Regions from separate parts of the Homo sapiens genome. Here region 1 is linked to region 2. The links come from fine-mapping of genetic effects on gene expression. A gene starts in region 2. The other region holds a variant in brackets. All regions are shown on one strand. Distances are from middle to middle. Region 1 overlaps ATXN7 (ataxin 7). Region 2 holds the start of PSMD6 (proteasome 26S subunit, non-ATPase 6).

Region 1 (5,384 bases), 73 kb before region 2:
GGGCCAGGTGCATTTCTAAGACTGGCATGTAGTAGCTCTCTTAGTCTTTCTGTCCTTTGAAGTACCCAGTGAAGTAGGTACTATGGTCATCACGGTTCAATATGTGAAGAAAATGCTGGCCAGGCGCAGTAGCTCACACTTGTAATCTCAGCACTTTGGGAGGCCAAGGTGGGAGGATCACTTGACCCAGGAGTTTGAGACCATTCTGGGCAACATAGTGAGACCCCTGTCTCTACAAAAAATAAAACAAAATTAGCTGGGCGTGGTGGTGCACACCTGTGATTACTCCTAGCTACTCAGGAGGCTGAGGTGGAAGGATCGTTTGAGCCTGGGAGATTGAGGCTGCAGTGAGCTGTGATTGTGCCACTGCACTCCAGCCTGGGCGACAGAAACCTTGTGTCTGGAAAAAAAAGTGATAATTTGAAGAGATTGTATAACTTGCCCAAGGTCACGTTTCTTTTGATTGAGGGAACCAGGATTCAGAGTGATACTGACCCACACTCTTAGCCACTCTGCTTAAAATGCCAGTGATAGTAACTAACTGGGGAGGGGGAAGGAACAGCCCTTTGAAGTGGTGACAGCTGAGCTGAGACCTGATGTGTGAGAATACACCAGGCATCTTGTGAAGTGCAAGCATAGAGTCTGGCTGGGGAAAAGGTTTCTGGGTTTGAGGAGAGAAGGGAGGTCAGTGTGCCTGGAGCAGAGTGAGCCAAGGAGAGAGAAGTGGGGAACGAGGGAACAGAGGATGAGAGGGAAGTGCAGGTATATCTGGCAGGACCTTGGGAGCCAGGGTAAGGGCTGGAGTTCTATTCCAAGAGGAGTAGAAAGCCACTGGAGAATTTTAAACAGGGGAGTGATGTGATCTGGTGGGGAATTTTAAAGAATCACTCTGGCAGCCTTGTGGAAAGGTTTGTAGACTACTTAGGGGACTTCTTCCAGAGTTCATTGAAAGGGTGCTGGTGGCAGGCCCAATAGTGGTGGCCATGGCAGTGGAGAGAAGTGGATGAAGATTTTAGGATAGAACTTAACTGGGTGTGCTAGTGGCCTGAATGTGTTGAGGGACAAGAGAGTTGGAGGTGACACCTGGGCTTTTAGTTTGAGCTGTTGGGGGATGAATAGTATCATTTACCCAAAATGGGGAAGGTTGTTGGGTGAGGAGCAGAGAAGGGTCAAGAGTGAAGTTTTGGACATGCTTGTTCTGTTTGAAATGTATATAAGACATCTAGATGGTAATGTCTAGTAGGCAGTCTGGTACGTGAAACTAGACAGAGCTTGGGAGCAGTCGGGGCTGGAGATAGAAACTTGTGAGTGGCATGTAGAAGTTTGGGATGCGTGGGAAAAGGGAGACACGCAGGGTACTGGGCAGGTTAAATGCTTTGCAGTGCCATTCAGGTTTTCTTGTTACTGAACAAAGTCCTCAAAATGGAGATAGCAACACCAAAGTAAATACATTCACCACAGTTTGGGGTATGGTTTCTAGCAGAGGGACTTCATTCTGCATGTGACTGAAGTTTCCATATACATGTGCTCAAGTGTCCTTGTGCTTAAACCTAATCCTCCCTAGTATGCTGGCCTGGGGTCTCCAAAGTACATGATGGCCTAGATGTGGGTGCTGGCCCACTCACTAATTGGAACATAGGGGTGACCTAAATCCTGAGAAAGATTTAGGGCTTACACAACAATAAAATCCATTCTTTCAAATTCGTTTAGAATCCATTAATTCAAGTACAATTTTTAAACTTTATGCTCAAGTACATAATTAATGGCCTAAGTTGTATATTACAAGTATATTTTGTAAACTTTTTAATTGAATAATGAATTCATTTTTATTAATTTTATATTTTTATTTTCTGTTGTAAATCAAGCTTTTCACAGCATTTGAGCAAGATCCCTATTTTAATTTGCAGACGGGTTGATTGTGAATTTATGCTTTAAAATATTTAGGAACATACATACTGTCTCTCACACACACATTATTTCATTTCTTTCTGTTGCCACAACATTCCACACTCTGTTCCTGTTGCTAAGGCCCCTGGAATGTCCCAGAGCAGAAAAAGAATATAGAATTCCTTTTTTTTTTTTTTTTCCTGAAGAAGCATTTTATTTAAATTATTTTGTATCCTCTAGTTTACTTCCAAATATGGATATCTGAAAGTGAAGAATTTAGAAAGCTAAAATTAAAGTTGCTTTACGTTTTCATAAAATGAACTCAATTTCTTTTTCTTTTTGTGAGACAGAGTCTCACTCTTTCACCCAGGCTGGAGTGCAGTGGCGCAATCTTGGCTCATGGCAACCTCCACCTCCCAGGTTCAAGTGATTCTCCTGCCTCAGCCTCCTGAGTAGCTGTGGTTACAGGCACCTGCCACCACACCCAGCTAATTTTTGTATTTTTAGTAGAGACAGGGTTTACTATGTTGGCCATGCTGGTCTCGAACTCCTGACCTCGGGTAATCCGCCTTCCTCGGCCTCCCAAAGTGCTGGAATTACAGGCATGAGCCACCGCGCCTGGCCCAGGGAGCTCAGTTTCATAGGGTAGAATGAACTGGGTTTAAGTATACCATGTTTCTTCCCACAGAGGGGGTGTGTGTGTGCATGCTTTTTAGAGAGATTCAGTGTGCTCATGAGAAATTAAGAACCGAGTTTTCCGGTCACACAAACCAGAGTCCTGGTTATGCCGCTTTCTTGCTGAGTGATATTAAATAAGTTTGTTTCTCCATAAGTAAAATGGGGATTATTATGTAGGGTTATTATTAGAAATAAATGGGAAAAACCATGTAAGAACTGCTTGGCATAGGACCTGGCACATAGTAGTCTCTCAGTAAATGTCAGCTGGTTATCATTATAGTCATCATCAGTTGCAATTGATCTTAAGTTATTGAGGAAATAGAAATTTTTACAGAAGTAT[A/G]GATTCTTGGTTCCTTACAGGATAACCCCTATCTTTTTAGTTTTACTAGTCCTAAGTCTCAGAAAAGGATCAAAGGAACCAGGGCAAAAAAGAATAATTTTGTACATGATAAACATCATGTGACAAATTGAATCCTTATTATTTGAAAGGATCAGTTTAGGTTTTTATTTCTCTTAATTGCTTTATTTTTAAAGGGGTAGAGGGTTAGTCCACAGAAGAATCTGGTATCTGGCAAAGTGATCTATTTTAAGCAACAGTGCTTTACATTCAGAACTGAGGGAAATCACAGAGACCACCAGCAGCACATTGCAGAGACCTAAAACTAAACTAACACTGTTTATTTAATACTGTTTTAACTGCTATCTAATAATAAAACTAATTGAGTTGATTTCATTAATGAAATTGTTCATTTGATATCTATCTCACACTCTTCAGTTGTAAATTATGAATGTTATACCAGTTCTGTAATTTAGATGTATCAGAGGCATTTAGCACAGAAGCATATGGAACTTACGGTAAATGACTTTAAATTTTATTTTTCAGAATGAAATGTCATGTCAAGAAACTGTAATCTTGGAAAGTGACTTATTACATGTATATCATTGCATAGATATAACCTTTCCCCTTCTCCCACATGTACTATATTTAACTCAATGTGGGCAGGCTTTCAGGGAAAATAGCATATTGTTTGGCTCTTATTTTTTATTAAATAAGCGTAGTCACAGAAGTCTGTAGTCTACTGGAAGCTTCTTATCTAATCAGTTTATACCATCAAAGATGGTCAGCCCTGACATTCCAATTTATTGACATTGGAATCTGGAAGGACTCTCTAGATATCATTATTCCTCTGGTCTTCAAGAGGTAAGAAATCCAAGCCACATTATAAGTCAGAATTGAATTCCAGCTATTGACCTTAGACAAAGTACTTTACCTCTCTGTGAGTCAGTTTTCTCTTCTTTAGAGGGGGGATATAATGATGTCTACCTAGGTAGTTGTGAGGATAAAAATGAAATAATAGCTTGTAGAAACTACTCGGTGCTGCAAGTACATCCCCAAATCGTGCTAGACTCTAGTATATTTCGGATTATAGCTAGCTATCTGTGCAATTCAGTGTAATAGAAACTGTTTAAGAAAATTCAAGCCATAGCCATGTGTAGATACTAGATCAGTAATTTGATATTTTAGAGATTATCCTCACTTGACATCTCCTTAAGGAATTTTCTTCTCCCTTTAAAACCACCAGGATCTCCCCGGCTGGAGAAAGTGTGAAATTAAATCTTCATAGGAAAGAAAGTAGATGCTAATCAGCTTTTTGGATCTTCCCCCTTGTCCTTTAAACTTGGTATTTGATCTACTAAAACTTTTGCTTAAATTGAAGTGTGCTAATTATCCATTCATTGCAGATATTCTAAAGAGTGAATGTAGTGTAAAATGCTGTTTAAAATCCACTGATTTTGAAATACTTAAAAAGTTAGATTCTGGATCTGAACTTTTAGCTCTGTTCCCCAAATTGTTGTTCATAATTAATTGAATGGTTGAGATGTTTTAGTTAACCATATTTACCAGGTATCAAGTTACTTTCAGTTTTCATGTATATGCAGACAGTTTAGTTTTACTTTTGCATTTAATTAAGTTGCTGTCTTACTGTTAAAACAAACAAACAGCTCGTATCCTACCCTATTTTGGTAACCAAACTGATTAATATATGAAATGCTGTTTGTACTAAAGTTCATTCTGCCTTTCTGGTGGCATTAGTATGTAAGCAAAAGGACTAGAGGTTGCTATGACTTGGAAAAAATATATTAAAATAATTTTCTTTATATGACATGCTGGCAAACCAGCAGTTCTATTCCTCTGTCTCTGCTCCCTTTCTTAATTGTTCCATAGAACTCAGGAACCAGAGAGCTGGAATAGAATGCACAGTTAAACAAAAGCATTAGATGGTACAGCTTTGTGAACTAAGCAGTTTACATGGTTGCAGATTCTTTCCCTTAACTCTTGGTAGAGTTCATCTAATGTTGCTTTATTGTGCAAATATATTCATTGTTTGCATTTTAAAAGATTGTTTCACCACATCATAATTATTTTTGGTGCACTTTAACCCTTTTTAAAGTGTGTCTGTAAGCCTGATTTGATTTCTCTGTTTAATAGTGGTGGTGTACCACATCAGTTCATTTGTCCTGGTATACTTTACAATAAGGCAACTCCTTTAGAAAGTAGTTTCCCAAAATGGTTTTATATCAGTCAGAACCAGATGAGTGAGTGATGCTCTGTTTCTGTGTTGCAGACATGCCAATATTTGGTTTCTGTCCAGCCCATGATGATTTCTACTTGGTGGTGTGTAACGACTGTAATCAGGTTGTCAAACCGCAGGCATTTCAATCACATTATGGTAAGTGCTTAACCATTTAAAAAATTGTTAATAGAAGGTAAAAGGTAAAGCAAGATTAAACTAAGGAACAGTGATGGCATGCATGGG
Region 2 (5,384 bases):
ATAATATTAGAACATTTTACAACTTCCTGATACTGATTCAAGCATGTCCTTGTTGAAATTCTTCAAAACCTGAATCAAAAGTTTCAAGTTTCTCATTCATATGTAATATATTAGTCTTTAAAACCAAGCCACAAACATACAGCTTAAAAGTAAATGGAAACCACTAGATAATTCTAAACTTTTCTGTATTTTCCAAATTTTTACAATGACCACGTCTTAAGTTTACAACCAGAAAAGAGAAAAAAACCTCGTTTTAGATATACATTGCAAAACAACATTTAGGCACTTACTATGTGCTAGGTACCAGTCTAAGCTTTTTCCTATCCTTAATCCACATTAAGTAAAAACTATCAGTACTCCTGTTTTACACATGAGGAAACCGAGGGTTTCATAAATCATAATTACCGAGGTTGAAAACAGAACCCAGACAATCTGATTCAAGAGCTCATGTTATTTTTATTTTTTATATTGGCACCATGTCATTCTATACCTAAATACTTCCAGGCAAATAATTTAAAATTAAAAACATTCAAAGCCCATTTTCTTAACCACTATTACACAGTTACTCAATTAAATTTCAAAGATCCAGTAATGGTGAGTACCCCTCTGGTGCCCTGATGGTGGAGTAAGCTGGCTGCTATGCAGAACAACTGGCCACACATATTTAAAAAAAAGAAGAAAAAAAAAAACTGTTCATTGTCCCGGCGATTTTGTTTCATATACTATACCCTAGAGAAACACTAGCATATACACACAGAGACATACATAAGCATATTTTTACAGCAGCAGTTTGCTAAAGCAAAAACAGATGAAAACAACACATATGTCCAACAACAGCTGAACAGGCAAATAAACTATGCCAGAGCTAGCTCTACAGTGGAACATTAGGCAGCAGTTAACCAGGATGAGCCAGATTTATGTATGTTGGCATGGAAAAGACCTCTTAAATATAATGCTGAATGAAAAGGGCAAACAGGACTACACTAATACACTATGATCCTATGTACTTAAAAAAAAAATTCTGTAGAATTAAAAATTTCTGCAAGTATTAACTTTTTTAAAAATTGGTTCTTTCATTGAGCATTTATATTCTTTTACATATAAAATTTTACGTAAAAAAGATTTTATGACCGGGTGCACTGGCTCACGCCTATAATCCCAGCACTTTCGGAGGCCGAGACAGGTGGATCACCTGAGGTCAGGAGTTCGAGACTAGCCTGGCCAACATGTTGAAATCCAGTCTCTACTAATAATACAAAAAAATTAGCTGGGTGTGGTGGCGCACGCCTGTAATCTCAACTACTCGGGAGGCTGAGGGAGGAGAATCGATTGAACCCAGCAGGTGGAGGTTGCAGTGAGCCAAGATCACTCCATTGTACTCCAGCCTGGGTGGCAAGAGTGAAACTCCGTCTCAAAAAAAAAAAAAAAATTACCAAAAAGTTTGCATAAATGCACAATAAAAGAACTGAAAAGCCTATCCCTGGGCAGGTACAGAGTAAAGAAAGATAACAGAACTTCAGCATTTACTATACTGTTTCTTAGTTTCTGCTAAGTATTACTCGTGTAAAGTACTAAAGACACCAGAACCAGTGCTTCCCAACCAAGTGAGAAAACTGCTGAAAATGATCCCAATTTTGTAAAAGCAGTAAATAAAATTCTCTAGATGTACACTTACGTTTTTATCGGCATGGGGTGAAATGGGGAAGAATACAGCCCTAGCTGCTGTTTGGGGAAATGACAAGGCATTTCATGGAGACGACTTTTTCATCTTTACATTGATTCACCAGTACAAGCAAGCATGATTACCTTTATACTTTTTCTAAAACGAAGTTAATTTTTTTAATGAGAAACGATTACCTGGAATAGTCTCCAATTTTAGCCTATACTAACTACAGAGAGGGAAAACCATCTCTACTCACTTTGTCACCTATCCGGCAGAGGTACTCGGCCTTTGCCATCATTGCATCGCGAATTTCGCTCTCTCCTAGATTCTTCTCTGCATCTTCCAGCTCCTCATCCAAACGCTTCAACTCATCTTCATTTGCCTTCTTCATTTTATTGAGTAGGTCCACGTCTATCTGCCAGTCGAGGGATTTGCACAAGGCTTCATAGTAAGGAGCCATGTCTAACATGCAAAAAGAGGGATGTGTGAGTGGGGACACTTGTGCCCTCAAGTCAAAGTCTGCCCACGTATTTCACCCCCCGCCCCGCCACAAGTCATCCACCAGTCTCTTCCCCACTAACAGGAAGGCATGCGATGGCGCTTAATAATCGGCTTGGCAAAACATAAACGTATGCTGGTGGGAGGTTTGCGTGACGGCCAATCCTGGCAATGCCAACCTCTACTAGGGCTGGAGGGAGGGCAATCCTCGGTTTGCTCTTGCCGGATTCTGTTCCAAAAGTCTTCAAACAGGGAAAGACTTTTTATACACACATACTCACATACATATGTTCAAACATACACATTCACTACAGAAGGGCCAGAAAGAACCGAACCCAAATTTCCCTTCCACAGGCAAGCTGAACTCTCCCACAGGAATACCCCGCGCCCGGGAGCAGTCCCCACTGACAGAAAGTCACGGGGCCTTTACTCTGTGCCTAGCACAGGGGTAAATATTAATGCCTCACGATTCTCCCCCAAGCTGCCCTTACAGGGGAAGGCGGCACAGAGAGATGCAGACCCCGCTGAGGCAAGTCGAGGTCCCCCAGGGTATCCCCAAACCAAAGCAAAACCCTAAGGGCCGGAGAAGCCAGGCCTGGTCTCTGAGACCCCGTCAGAGGGGTCTGGAGCTCCATCAAAAAAAGTCCCCGCAGGCTCCGGAACGCGGGGACGGCCCAGGCCTAGGCCGCTGACTCGGCGCTCGTGCGGGCCTCACTGTTATCGCGGACGGCCGCCATCAGCTCGTCGCGCACGGCAGCGTCTCCGCGGTGCTCGGGCAGGCTGAGCAGGAAGCGCAGCTGCGCGATACGCAAGTCGGGGTTCTTGGGCAGACCCTCCTCCTCCAGGTTCTCCAGCGGCATCGCGGCGAAGGGGACAGCGGCTGACAGGACACAACTTGGTTACGACCGGCTGCGGCAGCGGAAGCGGGAGGAGTCGGCGAATACGCCCGGCCGCCTGCGGCCCGGCTTCCGGTCCCGTCTCCGCCGGCAGCGTCCTCTGCTGGACACCTCCGGGAACGCCTCACCCGGCCTGGGCGCCTGCGCCCCTGTGTGGTCACGGGGGCTTTTCCACCCTCAAGGCCCCCTGCGGAGTCCCAGAGTGGGTGCAGCCCAACTCAAAAGCCCAATTTCTTGAATCTCTTTCTCACTCCCTTTTTAGCTATTTTACTTTCCGTTTGTAACTGATGGGAGCTTAAAATTTTTTGAAAACTGAAAATGTAATAACAGCATTAATAAAAACAATCACCATAGTTTGTCGAGTCGTTACTCTCATTCATCTTATTAAAATCATCTTCATGCTGCGAGGTAGTACTATTAGCCTATTTAGTAGGTAAGACAAATGAGGCACAAAGAGGTTAGGGAAACAGACCAACCAAGGTCATGTAACAGCCATGTCGCAAGGCCTAAATGAAAACCCCTATCTAGAACTCTAAAATCCACATTCTTTCTGCGGTTTTAAGAAGAAAAAAAAACTGCACCCAGGATTCTACGTCATAGTACAACAGCATCATCGTTTTGTTTACACATAAATTAAATCATTACATGCCTGCATTTTCAGCTTCCTTTTGTTCACATTGCTACAGATCTTCAGAGGTGGTAATCTTTACATTAAATTCCTTTTTTTTTTGAAACGGAGTCTTGCCCTGTCACCCAGGCTGGAGTGCAGTGGCACAATCTTGGCTCACTGCAACCTCTGCCTCCCAGCTTCAATCGATTCTCCTGCCTCAGCCTCCCAAGTAGCTGGGATTACAGGCCTGCACCACCATGCCGGGCTAATTTTTGTATTTTTAGTAGAGACGGGGTTTCACCATGTTGGCCAGGCTGGTCTTGACCTTCTGACCTCAAGTGATTCCCCCGCCTCAGTCGTCCAAAGTGCTGGGATTACAGGTGTGGGCCACCATGCCTGGCCTAAATTCCATCTAATGGATTTACCATAATTTACTTTCACTCTTCCCTCTGTTAGAGGTGTCTTTAGGTTGACCAGAGTTTTTACTTACCTAATATAAAAACTTGGATGAAGACTTTGGATGTCTAGATCACTTCATGTTTTGCATCTTTTTCCTTAGCATAAAATCCCATGAAGGAATAACGGACAAAGGGAAGAAGGATTTTGTGACTTGGGGATATTTAATGTTAAATGGTTTTCCAAAAGAGCTGAACCAGTTTACACAGCTGCTGAAACAGGTGAGACTGCCACATCTCACAGGCAGTAGGCATCATCACATAATTTAAATCTATTATTTGTTTCTATAAAAATGAAACAAGCATTTTGAAGACAACTCAAATGATAGAGAAAATATGAAGAGTAAAAAAAAAATACTATTAAATAGCTCTCCACCACTGCTAAACTTTTGGTAAAAAACTTTCTAAAATTCTTTCATTTAGTCATTCAACAAACATGATTGCATGGTTACAAAGTACCAGGCACTGTCTTAGGCCTCAAGGACTCAGCAGTGAAGAGCACAAAGCCCTGTCTTTGGAACTTACATTCCAGAGAAGCATAGCTTCTTTAAAACTCATCTGGGTATATTAACATGATCATTCTATACTCGCACATTTTAAACTGTGTTTTATTCATTCTACCATGTATTGTGGATATCTTGGATGACAATGGATTGACCATATAGGATTCCATTATATTTATTTCTGTTTGTTTGTTATTTTTGAGACGGATCTCACTCTGTTTGAGACGGATCTCAGGCTGGAGTACAGTGGGGTGATCTTGGCTCACTGCAACCTCCATCTCCCGGGTTCAAGCGATTCTCCTGCCTTGGCCTCCTGAGTAGCTAGGATTACAGGCACGTGCCACCAAGCCTGGCTAATTTTTGTATTTTTAGTAGAGACGGGGTTTCACCATATTGGCCAGGCTGGTCTCGAATTCCTGACCTCAGGAGATCCGCCCACCTCAGCCTCCCAAAATGCTGGGATTACAGGTGTGAGCCACCACACCCGGCCCATTATATTTCTATACCAACTTTTTCTTCATCAGTCCTTAAGTGCTGGTTGATTTGGGTTATTTTTGTTTTTTTCAATCTTATTAATATTACAGTGTCACTTATCCGTGTACATATATATTTTCACACTTAAATAGTTATTTCTCAATCTAAATCTCTAGACGTGCAATTGCTGAATAAGAGGGCATTAATATTTTATATTTTGATGTATTCTGTAAGTATTTTATGAATTATTTTCCACAAATGATATATATATCAATTTACATTGCC

Evidence for each region. PIP is the estimated chance that this variant, and not a neighbour inherited with it, causes the effect. A credible set is the group of variants that fine-mapping cannot tell apart.
Region 1: its variant is the best candidate, but not a certain one, in a credible set for the expression of PSMD6 in whole blood (INTERVAL, PIP 0.68).

The regions. Positions count from the first base shown.
Region 1 is chr3:63,947,187-63,952,570 of GRCh38, forward strand. It overlaps ATXN7 (ataxin 7), which reads left to right. Exons shown (of 13, transcript NM_001377405.1): 5 at 5,193-5,297. Among named protein-coding and RNA genes, the nearest start is that of PSMD6-AS2, 54 kb to the right of the region's middle. The variant A/G (reference allele first, on the strand shown) is at 2,906.
Region 2 is chr3:64,020,399-64,025,782 of GRCh38, forward strand. It overlaps PSMD6 (proteasome 26S subunit, non-ATPase 6), which reads right to left and starts at 3,096. Exons shown (of 8, transcript NM_014814.3): 1 at 2,877-3,096; 2 at 1,920-2,125. The coding sequence starts at 3,021. It overlaps LOC105377121 (a long non-coding RNA gene), which reads left to right and starts at 3,677. Exons shown (of 3, transcript XR_940906.3): 1 at 3,677-3,753; 2 at 4,227-4,344. RefSeq lists enhancers at 2,398-3,020, 2,705-3,054, 3,021-3,642 and a silencer at 3,205-3,304.